Homo sapiens: one gene and its partners. The protein of the gene in region 2 purifies or fractionates together with the protein of the main gene of each other region. This does not show direct contact. Each region holds a gene or a part of one and is shown on either strand. Other genes may lie near its edges.

The links. The genes of interacting proteins can lie anywhere in the genome.
Region 1: the proteins of TPRA1 (region 2) and SLC6A8 purify together in Homo sapiens (affinity purification with mass spectrometry; 2 studies listed by BioGRID and IntAct, with this or other methods). This does not show direct contact.
Region 3: the proteins of TPRA1 (region 2) and BMPR1B purify together in Homo sapiens (affinity purification with mass spectrometry; 2 studies listed by BioGRID and IntAct, with this or other methods). This does not show direct contact.

The regions. Positions count from the first base shown.
Region 1 is NC_000023.11:153,690,725-153,698,039, forward strand, and holds the end of SLC6A8 (sodium- and chloride-dependent creatine transporter 1), read left to right. Parts: intron 1-579; coding exon 580-829; intron 830-1,250; coding exon 1,251-1,383; intron 1,384-2,316; coding exon 2,317-2,451; intron 2,452-2,538; coding exon 2,539-2,642; intron 2,643-2,737; coding exon 2,738-2,862; intron 2,863-3,180; coding exon 3,181-3,293; intron 3,294-3,405; coding exon 3,406-3,543; intron 3,544-3,619; coding exon 3,620-3,722; intron 3,723-3,808; coding exon 3,809-3,909; intron 3,910-3,994; coding exon 3,995-4,165; intron 4,166-4,349; coding exon 4,350-4,490; 3' UTR 4,491-5,864; downstream 5,865-7,315. UniProt on the Homo sapiens protein: Creatine:sodium symporter which mediates the uptake of creatine. Plays an important role in supplying creatine to the brain via the blood-brain barrier.
Region 2 is NC_000003.12:127,569,772-127,574,648, forward strand, and holds the end of TPRA1 (transmembrane protein adipocyte-associated 1), read right to left. Parts: intron 4,018-4,877; coding exon 3,750-4,017; 3' UTR 1,461-3,749; downstream 1-1,460.
Region 3 is NC_000004.12:95,145,754-95,153,905, reverse strand, and holds part of BMPR1B (bone morphogenetic protein receptor type-1B isoform b precursor), read right to left. Parts: intron 5,159-8,152; coding exon 4,983-5,158; intron 1,264-4,982; coding exon 1,133-1,263; intron 1-1,132. UniProt on the Homo sapiens protein: On ligand binding, forms a receptor complex consisting of two type II and two type I transmembrane serine/threonine kinases.

The DNA.
Region 1 (7,315 bases), on a different chromosome or scaffold from region 2:
GCATAGCCGGGCTGGGGACGGGACCTGCCCAGCAGCACCCTTGGCTCTCTAGGTAGGTCCTACTGTTACTATCCCCAAGGACGCTGGGGCACAGACAGGTGGAGCGACGTACTGAGGTTGCCCACTGCAGGGGCGACTGTCTCCAACACTACCTCAGGCGACTAGAAACCCCCCCCCCCCACCACCACCATCAACACCAGCTGCTGAGGACTGGAGGCTACTGGGTGGCCAGGCAGAGGCTTGGACCTCCTGGAACCGCCATGGTGGCAGTGGGACCCACAGAAGGGGCCAGGTGTATGAGGCTGGAGACTCCACAGCACTTGGTCAGATGGGGACAGGAGGAGAGGGGCTCGCTCTGCCTTGGGTCTAGGGGGCGGCTGGAGGAGAGGAGACAGGCTGGGGAGTCAGCGCAGTGTTGGGGCTCACACAAGGGGGAGCCCAGGGGAGTCAGGAGCACCACAAACAAGGCTCCAGGAGGACAGATGGTGGGAGCACGGCCAGCCTGGGTGGGGACATAAAGGGGTGGCAGGGGGAGGTGGCCAGGGAAGAATCTACATGGCAAGGACTTCCCGGCCCCAGGCCTGGGCTACGCCTCCATGGTGATCGTCTTCTACTGCAACACCTACTACATCATGGTGCTGGCCTGGGGCTTCTATTACCTGGTCAAGTCCTTTACCACCACGCTGCCCTGGGCCACATGTGGCCACACCTGGAACACTCCCGACTGCGTGGAGATCTTCCGCCATGAAGACTGTGCCAATGCCAGCCTGGCCAACCTCACCTGTGACCAGCTTGCTGACCGCCGGTCCCCTGTCATCGAGTTCTGGGAGTGAGTCCGGCACCTCTGGGCCAAGCCCATCCCATCCCCCAGGTCTCCCTCATGTTGCCCGGCTCCAGGGGAGTGGCCCTGAGGGGGCACCAGGGTGTTGCCTGGCAGTCCATCCTGGACCCTGCCTGCCCTTGCCTGTCCTCGGAGAGTCCTGGGGCCAGCCTCGCTCCTGGGTTCGGCAGCCGATCACTGTCCTGGTCACTCCCCCCTGATGGGGGAGCTGGGGCTGCATGTGAGGTGGGATGGGAGTGGCCTCCCAATGGCCAGGGGATCGTGGGCTCCAGGCCCAGCCCAATTGGACAAGAGGGACCCGCTGAACCCTGGGCTGTGGGAGAGAAGGGAGCCACAACTCCTGGGGGTGGACCCTGTGGCTCCATCCTCTGCTGGCACAGGCCTCATGGGACCTCCCTCCCTCCCCTAGGAACAAAGTCTTGAGGCTGTCTGGGGGACTGGAGGTGCCAGGGGCCCTCAACTGGGAGGTGACCCTTTGTCTGCTGGCCTGCTGGGTGCTGGTCTACTTCTGTGTCTGGAAGGGGGTCAAATCCACGGGAAAGGTACCACTAGAGGCATGCAGCGGGGAGGGTGGCTCAGCCCTGGGAGCCGGATGTCTGTGCCAGGCACACCTGTGGCAACGGGAGGTGACCAGACAGAGTCTAGCCCTAAGGAAGGGGGAGGTACTGAAAGCCAAGCAATGCTCCCCACCCTGCAAATCCAGGGCCCAGCAGCCTTTGCTCCTGGGGATAGAGGCCCTGGCAGGCACTGTCCCTTCCCTGTGCCCATCACCCCCACTGGTGCCCTCCTGCCAGTCTCTGACTCTTGTGACAGTCTGGTGGACCTGGTCTGGCCATCTGTTACCTATCTTGCCTTGGGGACCCAGAGCAGAGTCTGGCCACATCCCTTGGGGGCTCCTGGTCAGGCTGGGGAGTCACCTGAACAAAGAAGACAGTGTCTAGAGCTGTGGGACATGGCCAGCTCCCTGGGGGACAAGGTCCCCAGAGCAGCATGTGGGAAGAGGGGGCAGACAGTGTGGCAGCTGCATCTCGCCTGCCTCTGCCTGGCCCAGTTCCACTCTCCACCTGCTCAACCCCCACCTCTCTCCAGAAGAGGAGGGGGACCCGACCCGGATCCAATATCCCGCTCCCTGCCTGGGCCTCCCACACCTGCACTGCCCACACACTCATACAGCTCTCACTCCCCACGTGCTCCACGCCTCCTGTCCCCACTGAGGAGAGCTCCCAGAGGCTCGCCTGCTCCCCACCGACACGCGTCCCTGCAGACAAACGAGGCGCCCAGGGAGCTTCCCCACTGCACTTGGCCAGGGCTGCCGGGGCGCAGCCTTGCCCCTAGCTTCCTCTGGCGGGAGCCATGGCTCGGAGGACAATGGGGACCTCTGAACATACCTGCCCGCAAGGGGGACCGGAGGCGCTGGGAGTGGGGGTGTGAGGGAGGTGGTGCCACAGCCTCCGCTGAGCAGCCTGGCCCCCCAGATCGTGTACTTCACTGCTACATTCCCCTACGTGGTCCTGGTCGTGCTGCTGGTGCGTGGAGTGCTGCTGCCTGGCGCCCTGGATGGCATCATTTACTATCTCAAGCCTGACTGGTCAAAGCTGGGGTCCCCTCAGGTGAGGTGGAGGTGGAGAGGCTGCAGCAGGGCGCTGCGGGGGAGCCCTGCAGGCCCCTCATGCCTGCGCTCTCCGGCCCTTCTCTAGGTGTGGATAGATGCGGGGACCCAGATTTTCTTTTCTTACGCCATTGGCCTGGGGGCCCTCACAGCCCTGGGCAGCTACAACCGCTTCAACAACAACTGCTACAAGTAAGCACCGCCGCCCTGCCACCCGTGCCCTGTCCTGCCCTGCCCCGCCCTGCCCAGCAGCCTAACCCATCCACTCTGGCCCCTCCACCCCTCAGGGACGCCATCATCCTGGCTCTCATCAACAGTGGGACCAGCTTCTTTGCTGGCTTCGTGGTCTTCTCCATCCTGGGCTTCATGGCTGCAGAGCAGGGCGTGCACATCTCCAAGGTGGCAGAGTCAGGTAGGGCCCTACCCCCAGCCCCGCCTCCAGAGCAGCGAGTGCTACCCAGATGCATGATGTACAGGAACATGCAATAGAAATGCTGAAAAGTGACGAGGATTCAAACGGAACTTGTCAGATTGTGGGCCTGTGGGGGCAGGTCCTGGGATTTGTCAATGTTGACAGAGAAAGGACCTCCCAGCCCCTGCCGCACGACCCAGGGTTGACAGCGCCTCTGAGGCAGGCGTGGGCATGGGCGCGAGTGTTGCAGGCAGGGCTCAGGGTGCGCACAGGGCAGGACATCGGCTACAAGGTCTAGAGCCTGCACCTTTCCCACAGGGCCGGGCCTGGCCTTCATCGCCTACCCGCGGGCTGTCACGCTGATGCCAGTGGCCCCACTCTGGGCTGCCCTGTTCTTCTTCATGCTGTTGCTGCTTGGTCTCGACAGCCAGGTTTGCATGGGGCTCTGGGACAGGGAGCCAGGAGGGGGGCGGAGGGAGGGCTGCAGGCAAGGAAAGGGGTGGAGGGCGGTGCGGGGCTCGGCCTGAGCTGCCCTGGCCACAGTTTGTAGGTGTGGAGGGCTTCATCACCGGCCTCCTCGACCTCCTCCCGGCCTCCTACTACTTCCGTTTCCAAAGGGAGATCTCTGTGGCCCTCTGTTGTGCCCTCTGCTTTGTCATCGATCTCTCCATGGTGACTGATGTGAGTGGGGTGGGGGGTCTGCCTGTGACCTCTGGTGGCCGTCTGCCATCCTCCCTGACTGGGCTCTGTCCCCCAGGGCGGGATGTACGTCTTCCAGCTGTTTGACTACTACTCGGCCAGCGGCACCACCCTGCTCTGGCAGGCCTTTTGGGAGTGCGTGGTGGTGGCCTGGGTGTACGGTAGGTCATGGCTGAGGGCTGGGCTGGGGGATGGTGGCGGGGAAGGCAGGTCTCCAGCTTGGCCCTCCCGCCTCACCTCGCCGCAGGAGCTGACCGCTTCATGGACGACATTGCCTGTATGATCGGGTACCGACCTTGCCCCTGGATGAAATGGTGCTGGTCCTTCTTCACCCCGCTGGTCTGCATGGTAAGGGCTGGGGGAGGTGGGGCAGGGCGGGGGGCGAGGCAGGGCGGGGTAGGGGCCCCATTAACCGCAGCATTCTGGTCCGTAGGGCATCTTCATCTTCAACGTTGTGTACTACGAGCCGCTGGTCTACAACAACACCTACGTGTACCCGTGGTGGGGTGAGGCCATGGGCTGGGCCTTCGCCCTGTCCTCCATGCTGTGCGTGCCGCTGCACCTCCTGGGCTGCCTCCTCAGGGCCAAGGGCACCATGGCTGAGGTAAGGCTCCCGCCCGGCCCGCCCTCCCCTCCCCTGCTGTGAACATTCAACCCAGCCTGCTTCCTAGCCAGGGAGTGGCCCCGACTAGGGTGGCAGGCAGTGGGAACCGGAGAGAGGCAGAGGAAGTCACCGTGGGGACGAGCAGGTGACCCTGGGGGCTTCAGCATGTCCTCCTCTCCTGCAGCGCTGGCAGCACCTGACCCAGCCCATCTGGGGCCTCCACCACTTGGAGTACCGAGCTCAGGACGCAGATGTCAGGGGCCTGACCACCCTGACCCCAGTGTCCGAGAGCAGCAAGGTCGTCGTGGTGGAGAGTGTCATGTGACAACTCAGCTCACATCACCAGCTCACCTCTGGTAGCCATAGCAGCCCCTGCTTCAGCCCCACCGCACCCCTCCAGGGGGCCTGCCTTTCCCTGACACTTTTGGGGTCTGCCTGGGGGAGGAGGGGAGAAAGCACCATGAGTGCTCACTAAAACAACTTTTTCCATTTTTAATAAAACGCCAAAAATATCACAACCCACCAAAAATAGATGCCTCTCCCCCTCCAGCCCTAGCCGAGCTGGTCCTAGGCCCCGCCTAGTGCCCCACCCCCACCCACAGTGCTGCACTCCTCCTGCCCCTGCCACGCCCACCCCCTGCCCACCTCTCCAGGCTCTGCTCTGCAGCACACCCGTGGGTGACCCCTCACCCCAGAAGCAGCAGTGGCAGCTTGGGAAATGTGAGGAAGGGAAGGAGGGAGAGACGGGAGGGAGGAGAGAGAGGAGAAGGGAGGCAGGGGAGGGGCAGCAGAACCAAGGCAAATATTTCAGCTGGGCTATACCCCTCTCCCCATCCCTGTTATAGAAGCTTAGAGAGCCAGCCAGCAATGGAACCTTCTGGTTCCTGCGCCAATCGCCACCAGTATCAATTGTGTGAGCTTGGGTGCGAGTGCACGCGTGCGTGAGTACGGAGAGTATATATAGATCTCTATCTCTTAGCAAAGGTGAATGCCAGATGTAAATGGCGCCTCTGGGCAAAGGAGGCTTGTATTTTGCACATTTTATAAAAACTTGAGAGAATGAGATTTCTGCTTGTATATTTCTAAAAAGAGGAAGGAGCCCAAACCATCCTCTCCTTACCACTCCCATCCCTGTGAGCCCTACCTTACCCCTCTGCCCCTAGCCAAGGAGTGTGAATTTATAGATCTAACTTTCATAGGCAAAACAAAAGCTTCGAGCTGTTGCGTGTGTGAGTCTGTTGTGTGGATGTGCGTGTGTGGTCCCCAGCCCCAGACTGGATTGGAAAAGTGCATGGTGGGGGCCTCGGGGCTGTCCCCACGCTGTCCCTTTGCCACAAGTCTGTGGGGCAAGAGGCTGCAATATTCCGTCCTGGGTGTCTGGGCTGCTAACCTGGCCTGCTCAGGCTTCCCACCCTGTGCGGGGCACACCCCCAGGAAGGGACCCTGGACACGGCTCCCACGTCCAGGCTTAAGGTGGATGCACTTCCCGCACCTCCAGTCTTCTGTGTAGCAGCTTTAACCCACGTTTGTCTGTCACGTCCAGTCCCGAGACGGCTGAGTGACCCCAAGAAAGGCTTCCCCGACACCCAGACAGAGGCTGCAGGGCTGGGGCTGGGTGAGGGTGGCGGGCCTGCGGGGACATTCTACTGTGCTAAAAAGCCACTGCAGACATAGCAATAAAAACATGTCATTTTCCAAAGCAGGCTCCTGCTTCCGCCTCTGCTGCTCTAAGGAAGGGGTCGGGGTACAGGAGGCAGGGGGAACCTCCTCCAGCTGGAGCTGCTGCCGTGAGCAAGGCTCTGCTCTGGAGGCCTCTGCGGCCGGCACCCTTCTGGGGACTGGGAAGGGGGCAGGGAAGGCAGCAGCCCAGGGGAAGGCCTTGTCCCCCTGGAGCCGAGGCAGTTGGGGAGAGCAGGACGAGAGTGAGCTGGAGAGCAGCCACACCCGCGGGGAAGGGTGGGCGTAAAGCCATGGGTGCTGAAATTTTCAAAATGTTACCCCAAGAATTTGTCACTGAACAGGTGCCTTGTGTCACTTGGGCCAGGCTGGTAGCAGCAGAGGGGATAACTCTGCATCAGGGATCAATTTTGAAGGTGGAGCCAATAGGGGTTGTGCATGACCAGGATGCAGGGCTCAAAGAGGAGTTAAGGACAACAGATTTGGCCTGAGCAAGAGGAAAGATGGAGCTGCCAGGTCCTGCAATGGGGAGGCAAGGAGAGAATGGTCTGGAGTCAGCCTTGGGTGTGTCATGCAGGAAGTGTCATCCAAGTGGAGATGTCTAGTTGGCAGGTGGACACAGGAGTTCCAGAAAGTACTGGAGATGGAACTGTGCAAGTTCTTACCACATAGAGATGACACTGAAAGCCCTGAGCCTGAGTGAGCTCACAGGGACGCCGCAAGCCCCGGAACACAATGAGAGGGGCAGAGCGAAGACGTGGCAGTGATAGGGGAGGACGCCTGAGAGTTCCTGGTGGGGTCCTGCAACCTGAGCCAGTGAGGACCCCTCACAGGTCAGGGAGGAGCAGTGGCTGGCTCCATCTGTCCAGTGCTGCTGCTGGTGAAGGACAGTGACCTGCAAATGCTCACTGAGTCTGGCAAGGGTCACGGGGGCCTGGCGAGGGTGGCTTGCATGAGCGGGTGCGTGTGAAAGGCTGGGTGGTGTGCGACTGAGAAAAGGAGTGGCGGCAGCGCAGTGTCATCTGCAGACGAAGGGAGAGACAACAACGTAGTTCACCCAGACAAGGAAATATGAGCCAGCCTGGAAAGGGAAGGCATTCCAACACACGACACAACATGGCTGACCCTGGAGGGCATTTCTGTGAAATGAGCCATCATAAAGGGATACTTGCTATAGGGTTCTGCTCCTGTGAGAGAGACAGGGCCTTACATGAGAGGAGGGAGATCCACAGAGACAGAGGGCAAGGGTGGGTGCCAGGGGCTGGGGACAGGGTGGGGAGTGTTGAGTGGGGACAGAGTGTCAGTTTGAGAAAATAAATTCTAGAGGTGGATGGAAGTGGTGGCTGCGCAACACTGTGACTGCACTTAATGCCACTGAATTGCACATTTAACGATGGTGAAAATGGCTCATTACATATACACTGATGACACTATATATATGTATGATATATATGCGTTTTACCATGAGAAGAG
Region 2 (4,877 bases):
AATTTTCTAGAATGTTGCTGAGTTTCCACCATGGCCCCATTCTGCTGAGCAGGAGGAAGACTTAACCTCAGTTATGCTTAGGGCTTTTCTGCCTATTCCGTGGATCTGGTAAGGTCTCAGGCTCTTGCACAGTGTCAGGAGGTCAGAGGGAGAGAGGCTCTAATGCCATTTGTTATGGCTGAAGTCAGTCCCCCAACACTCATGCACTGAAGCCCCAGCCCCAGGCACCTCTGCAGGGGACTGCATTTGGAGATTTGGCCTTTACAGAGGTGACTAAGGTGAAAAGAGGCCATTCATTGGGAGTCCTAATCTAATCTGACTGGTGTCCATATAAAGAGAGGAAATTCGGACCCAGAGAGACAGCAGGGACCCCACACACAGAAGGAAGACCACTCAAGAAGGCAGAAAGGGGACGGCTGACTGCAAACCCAGGAGAGGGGCCTCAGAGGAAACCAACAGTGGACACCTTGATCTTGGAATTCCAGCCTCCAGAACTGTAAGAAAATAAACCCCTGTTGTTGAAGGCCCCCATCTATAGTACTTTGTTATGGCAGCCCTGGCAAACCCATACATCACTGGCCATGCGTTCACCCGTTATATCACCATGCTCCAGTGCTCTGGGTGGGTGGACCTGCAGGTCTCAGAGCTCTGCTGCTTCAGGGCCATGTGGCTGGCACTGAGCTTGGCAGCAACTGAGGACCCTGTGTCCAAGGTCTTCTTCCCTAAATTCTCAATGGTGACACCTCTAAGGTGGGTGCTTCACTGACCCACAAACATGAGGGTGCAGTTACTGAGGGAGGAAAAATGGATACCAGTGGCAACCAGTCACCTGCTACCCTGTACCACTAGTGAAGAAACTGAGGATCAAGGAGAAGCTGTGACCTGCCCAAGGTCCACAGTCCATGTGCAGCAGCAGTGGGAAGGTGAGATTAGACTTTGGCCACATACAGTGAACTCTGTCACCACGTTAAGACTCCAGAAACCTCGCATCCAGCCGCTCCTCTGCCTAATGCCTGTTCGCACCCAGACACCACACAGACGTGGTCTGAGCAGGGCTCTTCAGAAAGACTGAAAATGTGACTGGCATACCACGTCAGTGAGGATGTGCCGGTGGGAATGAAAGCTGGCATAGCCTCTTGGAATGGGTGTTTTGGTTCAGATTAGGTTCAACTGTAAGAGAAACATCAAAAGTGGTTTGAACAAGATAGCCACTCATTTCTCTCATACGTTCCAAAAGTCATCTGAAGGTAGGACGTCCGAGGTCGTTACAGATGCACTACAGTGTCCATGACACCGGCTCTCTCTATCCTGTCGCACTGCAATGAGAAACTTCCATTCCCCAGATTACCCTATGGTTCAAGATGGCTGCTATCACTCCAGCCATTATAAGCACATTCCAGTCAGCAGGAAAGAAGGGCCACCTCTTATCTCTAAGGAAGTTGCATGCATACTTACATCCATTGGCCAGAACCCACCTGCAAGGAAGGCTAGAAAATGCAGTCTTTATTCTAGACAGCTGTGTATCTAGCGAAAAATCAGGGATTCTCTTCCAATGGAGAAAAACAACATATATTGGAGGACAACTATTGATCTCTGCAGAAGACTAATAAGAGTAATTAAAACTAATTAAGACTGTGTGCTCCAGCAATTCTACTTGCATGAGTTACCAAAAGCAAATTTATAAGGATTGTTGATGTTGCCTTGTTTGTTGTTGCAAAATTTTTCAGAAACAAAAGGGAAGTGGTTTATAAATTGCCATATATCCATATATATGTAGCTGCAGGGGTGAAGCAGTCCTCCACTTGACATGGAATGATCTCCAAGATCCATTGGAGTGAGCTACAGGACATTAGCATTACAGAAAGAGGGATGATATACACATCCGTTGGTGTGAACACAGGATGGCTCTGGAAGGTTATGGAGACCCTGGGTGCTTCAGGAGGGGGACAGAGGAATTCAGTGCCACACAGGGAGATTTATCGTTCACCAAATACCCTCCTGTACTGCATGAACCTTTTTTTTTCTTGCCATGTACATATATGACCTATTTTTAAAAAACAAACTTAAAAATTATAAAAATGGTCTCTTTTCTTCTGTTGATGCCTCTCTGCTCATTCACTGCAGCCAGCAAACTTCGGCTGACACTGTGCCATCTTGGACTGCATGTGGATCTGATGGTCAAATCCCTGCTGGCCCCAACCCTTACCCCGCTCACTCAGAATGCCGTGAGCTTGCCTTCCCTGATTACCAGGCTTTTACATGAGCTGAGAGGCCCCGATAAAGTATGCCATTCAGGGGCACCCTGCAGTACCCCCTGCAGCCCAGGAGTCCAGCTCACTGGCCGTACTGTTGGCCCTGTCCGCTATCAACCCTCCAGGCCCTCCCAGGGAGCCTGACACATTGGCCCCACAGACATGAGCTGTGTTGGAGCTTGTGCCCTCGGCACCCCATTCCCCCCTAAAAAAAAAAGGCTGATCGCGGAGGCGGGCAACAGCCTGATCCTCAGGGTCCCCACAGCCAGGGCTGAGACCTCCCCAGGCTCTGAAGCATGCAGTTGGCTGTGTCCTGGATGGGCTCCTCCTCTCCAACTCTGGGGATTACATAACTGGCAGCAACTCCCTTTCACTCTGGCTGCCAAAAAGCTCAAAGCCGAACTCAGGTACAAGGGCAGTGGCAGGGACAAGTGGGCCCCTCTCCCCTACTCATGCCTTATGATCCCAGTGCTTTGCTCTGATTTACTCCCATTTTCAGCCAACCACACCCATCCTTATGACAAACATCAGTCCCCGAGTCCTGTCTGCTGGGGGCCTACTATGTGCCAAGCACTATTCTTGAGGCTAAAAATAAGAGCTATCCTTATCGTTCATTACTGTACGCCAGCCACTCGTGCTTAGTGTTTTCCAATCCTTACAAAAGGCCCTGCAGGATGGGTCTTCTCCGCATTTTACAGATGGCAATAGTAAGTCCATTCTGCGTTTTAATGGAGCTGAGCAGAGAGAACCGGCTGCCCAAGACAACAGTGTGTGTCTGACAAAGGGAGAGGGGCTGGCTCACAAAACATAGTTCTCCTCTCTCTCCATGTCTGTCCCCCCTACTCAGATGGGCCCAGGGGCAGGGGCAGCGGCAGCTGGGATCCTGTTTCTCTTCACCTCCCCAGCAGCCAGCCCAGGGCTTGGGCACTGGGGACTGCTCCTTGGTTGAGCAGAGGCCCCCTGAGCCTCCCAGCCCCTCACCCAGCCCTCAGGCTCCTGAAAGGAACCAGCCCCAGTATTCCTGCAAAACCTCCACATTAGCACCTTCTGCTCCTTTTCCTTTTTATTAAAAAATAGATCAAGAAAATATACACACTTCAGTCCATCCACCATGGTGGATGCTTTGAGGAGGCCAAAGCACCATGGGGATGGGATGGAGGCATTGGGAGAGCCAGCCCTGCCCTCGTGCCAAGGGTGCAGAGAAGGAGGGTGCCCTCAGCCAACCTTGCCAAGCATGGCCCTGGAAGGAAAGCCTGGGCCATGTCACTGAGCAGTATGAGAGCAGGTGGGAAGGGGAGGAGGGTCCCCAGTGAGAGCAGAGATGGCAAAGGGGATTGGGAGCCCCAGGGAGGTGGGGCCTCCAGACTCATGGTGGGAACAGGGCCACACAGGGCTACTGCCCACAGAACGTCCCTTGACCTGGTCCTCCTCCCCTGGGGACTCTGGGCCTGCTGGCCTCCTCTCTGGCCTGTCCTCCACAGGCCCTGGCAGCTGCCCTCAGGCATTGATGGCCTTCCAGCGCTCGCTGTCTGTGCTGTTGATGCTGCCAGTGTGGCAGGGCATGGAAGCGATGTCATCCAGGTAGGCCACCCCGCCGGCAGAGTCGAACTGCGTGCTCGAGTAGCTGGCAGCTGAGGCCCCAGCAGCCCCTGCAGCCTCCAGGCCCTCCCGCCGGGCCACAGCGTAGGGCTGGGGTAGGTGTACATCTGGCTCCTCTGTCTCGTCCACTTGGCATTTGTAGGAGAAGAGGATCTTGGGCTCCGAGCTGATAAAAGGAAAAGAGGGGCATGGAAGCCTCACTGAGTGATTCAGGAAGAGCCTTCCTCTCCAGGCTGATGGGGCCACCAGATAAGGAAGGAATTGACCAACAGTCGCCTGACACCCACTCTGAGTGGGCCTGTGAGCTGGACCCCAGAGCCCATCTAGACTTGTTTTGGAACCCAGCCCTCCTCCCCCTGGCTGTGTGAGCTCAGGCGGGGGGCATCTGTGCCTGCTTCCTCATGGTGAAATGGGTGTGTGGACACCGTGTGGAGGAAGAATGGACATAAATCATGAGGCTTCAACAGTGCCTGCCCAAGCACTCAGGAGACATTGGCTGTGGCCTCCGCCCCCACTCCTGTGACCCCTGCTGCTCATGTTACCACCCACTCCACTCTGACCTCGTCCCTCGGCCCTCAGGGCAACTCTCCAAGGGGGACACACTACACCCAATTTACAAAAAGGAGCCTGAGGCTCAGGGGAGAAATTGTGTGCAAAGATCCAAGCTGGGGCCATGGACCAGTCTGGCCCTCTCCCAGCTTCACCCAGGTGGGAGGCTGATCCCCTCCCCACAAGACCTGGCAGGTGAGAAAGGGGGGACAAAACACCCACATTCCGACCACATTAAGGTCTGGAGTGGGACCCCCAATCCCATGTCTTCAGCATCCCATCTCACAGACGCTTCTGCAGATGCACATGTGCACAGCAGTGTACTCACCCCCAGAGAATCCAACTGACTTCCCACCCCAAACCTGCTCCCCACTTAAGTCTTCCCCCAACAGGGTACAAGCTTTGTGAGGACAGGATTTGCATCCGCTGTGGGCCTCGCATCTTCTGGCTCTAGCAGTGTCTGGCACACAGTAGGTG
Region 3 (8,152 bases), on a different chromosome or scaffold from region 2:
TAACCAGACACAAAACCAATGAGCCAAAGGTGTTTTTGTTTTTGTTGTTGTTTGTTTATTTGTTTTAAGACAGGGTCTCGGTCTGTCGAGTGCAGTGTCATGATCCTGGCTCATTGCAACCTCCGCCTTCCGGGTTCAAGCAATTCTCGTGCATCAATCTCCCGAGTAGGTGGGAATACAGGTGTGCACCAACACACTAGGCTATTGTTTGTATTTTTTAATAGAGATGGGTTTTCACTATATTGGCCAGGCTGGTCTCGAACTTCTGGACTCAAGTGATCCACCCGCCTCGGCCTGCCAAAGTGCCGGGATTACAGATGTGAGCCACAGTGCCCGGCCCAGAGATTATATTTAAATGGCTTTTACACTTCAGAAATAGTGCTCTGTCCCCCCTTTGCAGTGCTTTGGTACGTTTGATAAGAGCCTGTTTTTTTTTCCAGTGGTGCTTCAAACTCATCTTGAACATTCCAGTCTGCCAGAGAACTCTAGAACATGGTGAGTTTGAAGGCTGCGAGGGTGGAAGGAGAGGAATGTGGAACAGGAGGAGGAGTCAGGAAAGGCAAGACTCATTTCTTCCTTACTAGCCGCTGCTTTCCAGACCTATGTAGGTTTCACCACTACAGCCTTAGAGCCAAGCTGAAGGTGGATTTGTTCAAATCACATCTCGTCATCCTTATTAACAAAGACACCCAGCACAGTCAGGCATCTTAACTAGGTCAACCTGTATCACTTTAACATGCCTACTTTTTTTCTCTAATCAAAATGGGAGAATGCTGTACATGGGTTTGTCACAGAGAAAAATTATGATGCTTTAAAAACACACACAGAGAAATAATAGGTTTTATGCAAATGTCAAGACATTATAAATAAAGAAAATAATGTTATTTGTTATGCAGGCTAAACACTGACCAACTCACTCAATATATTCTGGAAGTGGCAAAATAAAATTGGAAAAGTAGAACAAGTAATTTAACATACTACACTTATCTTCATATAAATTACTGCAATGAGGCGCCATCACCATCACCATCAAAAAAAGAAGAATTCCTACAATCAATATGTGGAATTTTAGCTAAAAAAGAAAAGTCTATTTAGAAGTCTGTCACAGCCACATGGTTACCTCAAGCCTTACCTCATCACTGCTCCACCGGTTTGGGAATGAGGGGCGTAACTTCTTGATGCACACAATCTCCCTCATGTCCTCATAAGAGGGGTCACTGGGCACTAGGTCATGATAAGGAAGCTGGTATTCTTCCACTATACCTAAAAATATGTTGTTACTATTATTATTATTATTATTATTTTCTGTGAAGTAGAAATAAAAGTCTAACACAGTTCTCAAAGGAAAAGTGCTATCAGTATTACAGACAAGTTCAGGCAGAAAAATAGCAAAATAAATCTTGAAAAATATTTACCCAAATGGTACTTAATCTAATTTAGAAAAAATGAATACAAAGCCCAATGAAAAATATTGTCATAGGTCTTCAAGCCTTTCTTTCCTAATTTCCAAAAGCTAAGTAAAACAAGCATCTTAAATTTATTTCCATTTTTATGAAGAACAAATTAAAAGACAAATCTATATTAAATCTCAATGCAAATCTGCAAGACATATCCTGAACTCATACTACATGTGACTGTTTCTATTACTATAGTATGAAACTATGAATATCATAATAAATTCAGAAGTGTATCCTACTTGAACAAAATGTCAGATTTACATTTTTTCTGCTTAATTGTAGGAATGTGGTTTTGCACATTAAAAATTTAGAAAATTACAGACACCCAAAAATATTAACCATGAATTTTTTAGGTTCAAGGATTATCTGATTTTTTTCCTATATTTATCCAAATTTTCAGTAAGGAATACATTACTATTAGAAAAAATATGTATTGTTAAAAGAAAAGAAATATAAATCTATAGCATCTTCATAAAAATGCACACTAAACTTTCATTTTATTGTTCCTAGTATTTAATTTCTACCTTCTTCCTCTTCTCCTTTAAAAATGCAGGCTTCTAGTATCTTCTTTTTCACCTTCTTAAGATTAACTCCTTATAATAATTACATTAGAGGCTGCTGCTCTGAACAATCTTTTGGGAGCACCCCTCCTCCCTATCCTAAATCATCTTTTATAGAAATATCATTGCTTTTCATCTGAAAAAGATGATGCCGTCAAGTTGGCAGATTATATATCACATCGTTAAATTCACTGGGGGCTTACTCTGCCAAAATCTGGGGTCTGTGTTATGTTCTTTCTTGTAAACTCAAATCTGTTATAAAATCATCAAGGACCAGAAGGTTCAGAAGTTTTTTCAGACCATTCCAACTCACCATTTGTCCTGTGCCCTGCTGTGACCACAGAGCTAATTATATGTATTATCTATGTTAATATTTCCTTTCACTGTGTTTTACCTCCATATGAGATAAGAAAAGCACAGGGCCTAACACGCAGGATGTGCTCTGCTTCATTTCAGTTCTTTCTCCCTTTCTCATTCTCAGGACCATGGCCCTGGAAACAGCCTGAAGGCAAAGCCCACATCTCTTTAACCCATCTCCTATTTTCCGCTGGTGGATGGACTGATGGATGGGGTGGGGTAGGTGTATCTACTACAACAGACGAAGGCAGAGCTCACCACTTAAAATTATGAATTACTCAAATCTAACTGTTGAATAATAGGCCTTATTCTTTTCTCCATGTCATGTAATCAAGTTTTCAAAATTTCCTGTTAGCTGCCATTTAACTCTGTTTGAAACCTCAAACCTTTCTGTCTTTCTTCTCCTTTAAAAGATGGAAAGGCCTACATCTGGATGTGTCTCTTTCACCCAGAAGGGCCTGGACTAGAAAGATAAGCCCAAAAAACTTCTAATATCTTCATAAAGTGTTAGAAAATAGAATTTTGTGTGCTTTGCCTCTCTGGAAAAATAAAATCGCTTATTGAGAGCTTCCTCTATCCCAGTTGTGGAAACAGGTATGCTATATAAATTATCTTATTAAATTCTCACAAATGCGTTTCTGAGATGACATTATTCTCCACACTACTCAGATGAGGAAACTTGGCTCTCAGGGGTTAAGTAACTTGCCCAAGTCCATTCAGTTGGTATGGGACAGAGCAGGGACTCCAACACCTCTAACAATAAGGCAACATTATAGCAAATCTCCACATCCAAAGACAGCCCTAGCAAAGCAAATTAATACCCTAGCACAGCAATTAATACCCTGCTGTTTATATAAAGCTACTTTGTTTTTAAGCTGAGAATAATTTCTCCTGTATTTGGCCCACAGGCTTTCAAATATAGGCTTCCTGTAGCCCTGTTTGTTTTAGATGTTCAAGAAAACATAATTAGAAAAATAACCTTGTTCTCTACACCTTCAACTTCCATAAAGCTATCTTAATTAAGTATAAGCATATTATTTTTTAAAAGGCTCGTCTACTTGTTTTTTTTTTTTTTTTCTTTTTAAATACAGACTGGGTCCCAATCTATTGCCCAGACTAGTCCTCAACTCCTGGCTTCAACTGATCCTCCCCGCTTGGACTCCCAAAATGCTGGGAATGCAAACGTGAGGCTTATCTACTCTTTATAATGCGTGAAATCAAGGCATAGACAATTTGTTAAATTTTTTGGTTACTTCTTCTTTACACTTAGAATGAGAAATTTATTCAATATCTGGTTAGAGAAAATTTCCTGCATTAACTTTCCTTTTGCACAAAATAGTTCCCTCACTTCAGAGAGTATGTGTTCTATTTCAAATTTCTTAAAACAGGTTCAGAATTCCCAAAGTGATTATTAGAAGGCACTGTGCCACTGATAATGATCTTTCTATTGAAGTGTGAATGCAGGTTGATTAACTGTTTCTTCTTTGTATTTAAATATGAACCTAAAGATGTTATGGCTCTACCAACCAAAATGAAAAGTATTAATAGTAATAATAGCTAACATGTATTGAGTGCTATTTATGTGCCAGGCAGTTCTCATTATCTTTACATTGAAACCATACAACCACAGAAGCAGATACAATAATTCAATTCATCTTTAAGAGGACTCTGAAACAAAGAAAAGTTTATAACCTGTCCAAGGCATCACAGATAAATAGCAGGAACAAGAACACATCTCAGTACTAGTTAAGTGCATGCTGCACTTTCAGAATCTTCAGCAAGCTCATGTTTTCATGAAGATAGACTTAAATTGGCCATTATGAGGAACAGCAGCAGCATCAAGGTTTTTTAATGAGCACAACCATGGAATAACATACAGAAGAGTTGATACAGAAAAGCCAAAGATTCAGCTCCTTGCCTAAAAGGTGTCAGAATTTACTCGAAGACAGACTGTAGAGCAATCAAAATAGTACAAGTAATAATACTTCTGAATATTTAAATATGTCTTCTTGTTCATTATAATTGTTTTTACTAGGGAATCCTCATATGTGTAGAAAAAACAATATAAAAAAATAATACTCTGATACTTTAATTTCCTTTTGATAAAAAACTGATGTTTTCAAATTGCTTTATGGGGAAGTTTTATAAAAAATACAGCAGGTAAGAAATGGGTGTCCGACCCCACATTTATGGCCTACTGTCATCTCTGCAGAGGAAATCCCAGGGAATGGAGTTGGGGATGGGGCCCAGCAGCTAGGTGAGAATAAACTGGCAGGGACAGAAAAGGGGGTTTGATTTCATCGAGCAACTGCTGGAGGAAGAACCCAAGACAGAAATAAGACAATACACAGAGCAGAAAACAGTGATGCTTGAAAAAGCAGGGTAGGCTGACAGTGTGTCTAGTGGCAGCTGGAGGAAGGAAGCAGTCAAAGATTATTCTAGGATGTCGAATATAATTTCCTGGAAGCACTATGACTGCATCAACAGAAATAAAGGGGAAAATAAAACCAGATCTTATAGACAGTATGATAACTTTGATTTCTGATCAGAAAGAAAGGATTTATAGTAGCTCCAATAGTAGCTTTTCAAAGACAGCACTGTTTCTTACCTCCTGATACACATCTCCTAGCAACCTCCCAAAGGATGAGGCCAAAACTATACATGTCAGCCATGATGTAAGACTGGAAGTGATTTCTGTTCAAGCTCTCGTCCAACACTTCTGGAGGCATATAGCGTTTGGTGCCAACTCGAGTGTTAGGTGGTATGTCAACTTCATTTGTATCACTAAGGAAAAAGTAAAGCAAAGCATTACAGCATTGAAGAGGACCAACAAAAACGAATCAAGGTGATTCTGAAACAATGGCTTTAGTTAGTGAAAAGTGGAAAAGAAAAACTTTCCAGGGAATAAAAACAATTTCTTAAAGAATATTTCTTGCCAAAAGCTATATTAAATATTTACAGGTTAAAAGCCAATGAAAGGCAAGCTGATACTGTGGTGCATGCCTGTAGGCCCAGCTATTCTGGAGGCTGAGGTGGAAGGATAGCTTGAGCCTAGAGGTTCAAGGCCTGACTGGGCAACATAGTGAGATGCCATCTCTTAAAAAAAGTTAGAAAAAAAAAACAATGAAGATAAAACTCAGTCAGAATGAAGCTGCAGCATTTAAAATTGCATTACCAATAGATCAAATTTATACCCTAAACAACTGCTAAATATATATTAAATATCTAAAAAAACCCTCTTCCTTCCCCTCCTATTTTAAAAACTTTACTCTTAAAATGGGCATGCACACATGACAATTTCATGTGAAACAGTATTTTTTAAGCCAGCTGTTGTAAAGCTCTTAGATCTATAAACAGGTTTCAAAAGGGGAGAAGGAGAGAACCAACAAAGACATGCAATTGTTTTACTCTGACAAGGTGGGACATATAAAAAAGCTTTCTGCTATCACTATTGTTTTATGAACCAAATAGCATTTAACTTTTTTTTTCAAAGGAAGAAAACAATAATGGAATATAACATCTTTAACTTTCTGAAAATTTTACAACAGGCCCATTTACTATTCCTTCCCATAGACTGGGAAAAGAGTAATGACGGAGGGACAACAACCTGCACACTGGCACTTGGGAACCATTGCTTCAGTGCGATGAGCTGGAGCCACAGTTCCAGCCCCTGTTCTAAGGGTGCTGAATGACTAGGCTGATGATTAAATGAGATGACATGTACAAGCCCTGCCAACATGGTACTAGGCACATATTAGATACTTAAGTACTGTAACTCATCAGAAAGTAAAGGAACTAGGTAGAAAAGTAACAAACCCTAGATATGACAGATGAACAGACTATAACCAAATAAGGTATACTATAAAACCAAAAAGGTACAGAAACTCATTATTAAGCTGAACTCTGTGGAAAATCTTGAATAAACCTTTCTACCTCCTGATTCCCAACAATTTTTTTTTTTGCTTTTGCTTTTCATTACACTCTATTGACTTTCAAGAATTTACATGTTATTTCTCCTCAGCCTGGAAAACAGATTCATTTATCGAATATCACACTTATCCTGCTGTCATAGATAGTCAATACCAAAACACTAGTGGCTTCAGGAAAAAAACAAAAATCAAAAACCTCTGGGTTTGATCTCATTGCCTTGACCACTTCTACAACATGAAATACATGGTGTCATTTTTTGTCATTTGAGAACATTTTAAGTGTCATTCTGAATATCTCAAAATTTTTACATTTACTAAAACATAAAATGCAAAACTTCATTTTAGAACATTTTAAAGTCACTTCCGGCTAGAATTCTTAATCTAAAATTTTATGTTTTAGATAAGATGACATATCAACAGATATGTCATCAGTGTACTCATTAGGCCCCTCGTGGTTTTCTAGGTGCAATAATAACTAGCCTGTTTTCTTAAATAAAAGTTAAGACGTTAAAAAAAAAGTTAAAGTGTAATTAAAAAACAAAACAGATGGTATTCTTTACCATATGCAAACATAGGTCCCAGTGTTCTGGGATCTTTTCTAAAACTGGAAAAAGAGGCTAAAATGTTAATTCTCAGCACTTATTGGTATAATAGAAAATTGTCATTTGTATGTGTAAATGATAAATGACAGGGGAGGAAAGTATGCTGAGAAGAGACTTAATGGTAAACTGGAAACATGTCAGATTGAATAGATGCTACAAAAGCTCCATTTCCATTTATAAAGCACGCTCTCCTCCTACTCCACCTGCTGACACCTCTCATGGGAGCAGAGTAGGGATTTCACTAATGTGGTGCCAGCATGTCCTAATTTTAATTTTTAATCATGAGGAAGATAGTGGTGACCCCAGGTAAGAAGTCCTGGGTCCCATGCAGAGAAAACAAACATGAGGGTTTGCAGATGAAAAGAAGATGGTTAAAGACCTCCACTGTATTCCAGAACAAGAAGAATCTTAAGACAATCCACACAGAAGGGCATTTAGAAAGGCCAAAGGTGTAATCTGACCACAGTTGATAAAGATTTTAGGCAATTTCATTCCATTCTTACTCTTAGCTCCTTAATGTTTATTTGGATTTGGGAGGTCAGGAAAAGATAATGGAATGTGTGATGTAGAGATATCTATTAGAAAAATGAAAGGTAATTGTGACCTAATAATAGAATTAAAATTTGTGACAGCTGGAGTATACATAGTTCATCTCTAAATTCTTTTTCTCAAACACTGCAAAAACATACACTCAAGGATTCTGAATGTCCACCAAATGCCAAAAATCAGTCCTTTACATAGTCCCTTAAATACATATGCATGTTCAGCAATAAGCCATCTCTCTCCTCCCCTTCCTCTCCCACCCTAGACGTTTGCCCTAGTAGTAGCTGAATAAATCTTCTCCCTAGTAACATTTGAGTAAGTAATCTGTTTTCCAACTGAAGACTATCAACTCCTCTGAGCCCCCAAATACTTGTCATAGTCATTTGGTATATCCCCAAAGAGCATAGCCCCAATCCTTCTCCATTCGCAGTGTGTCTTGCACATGACAGGAAAATAATGTACTTTAAATGAAAGAAGGAAAAGGTTTGTTTACACTAAACTTTGCTATGGATAATTTAAAGGGAAATGTAAAAATCTCTGGACTGCATGGGCCATAAAATGAGATCTTACCAATTTCTAGAAGGATAAATAGAATTTTGTTGAGCAAACTAATTTTGTGAAAGATCACTATCAACCTATTGGCAAGTGCCTTTAGCACTACACTTAAACAACAAACATGAGAATTATAGGTAATCCATATCTGA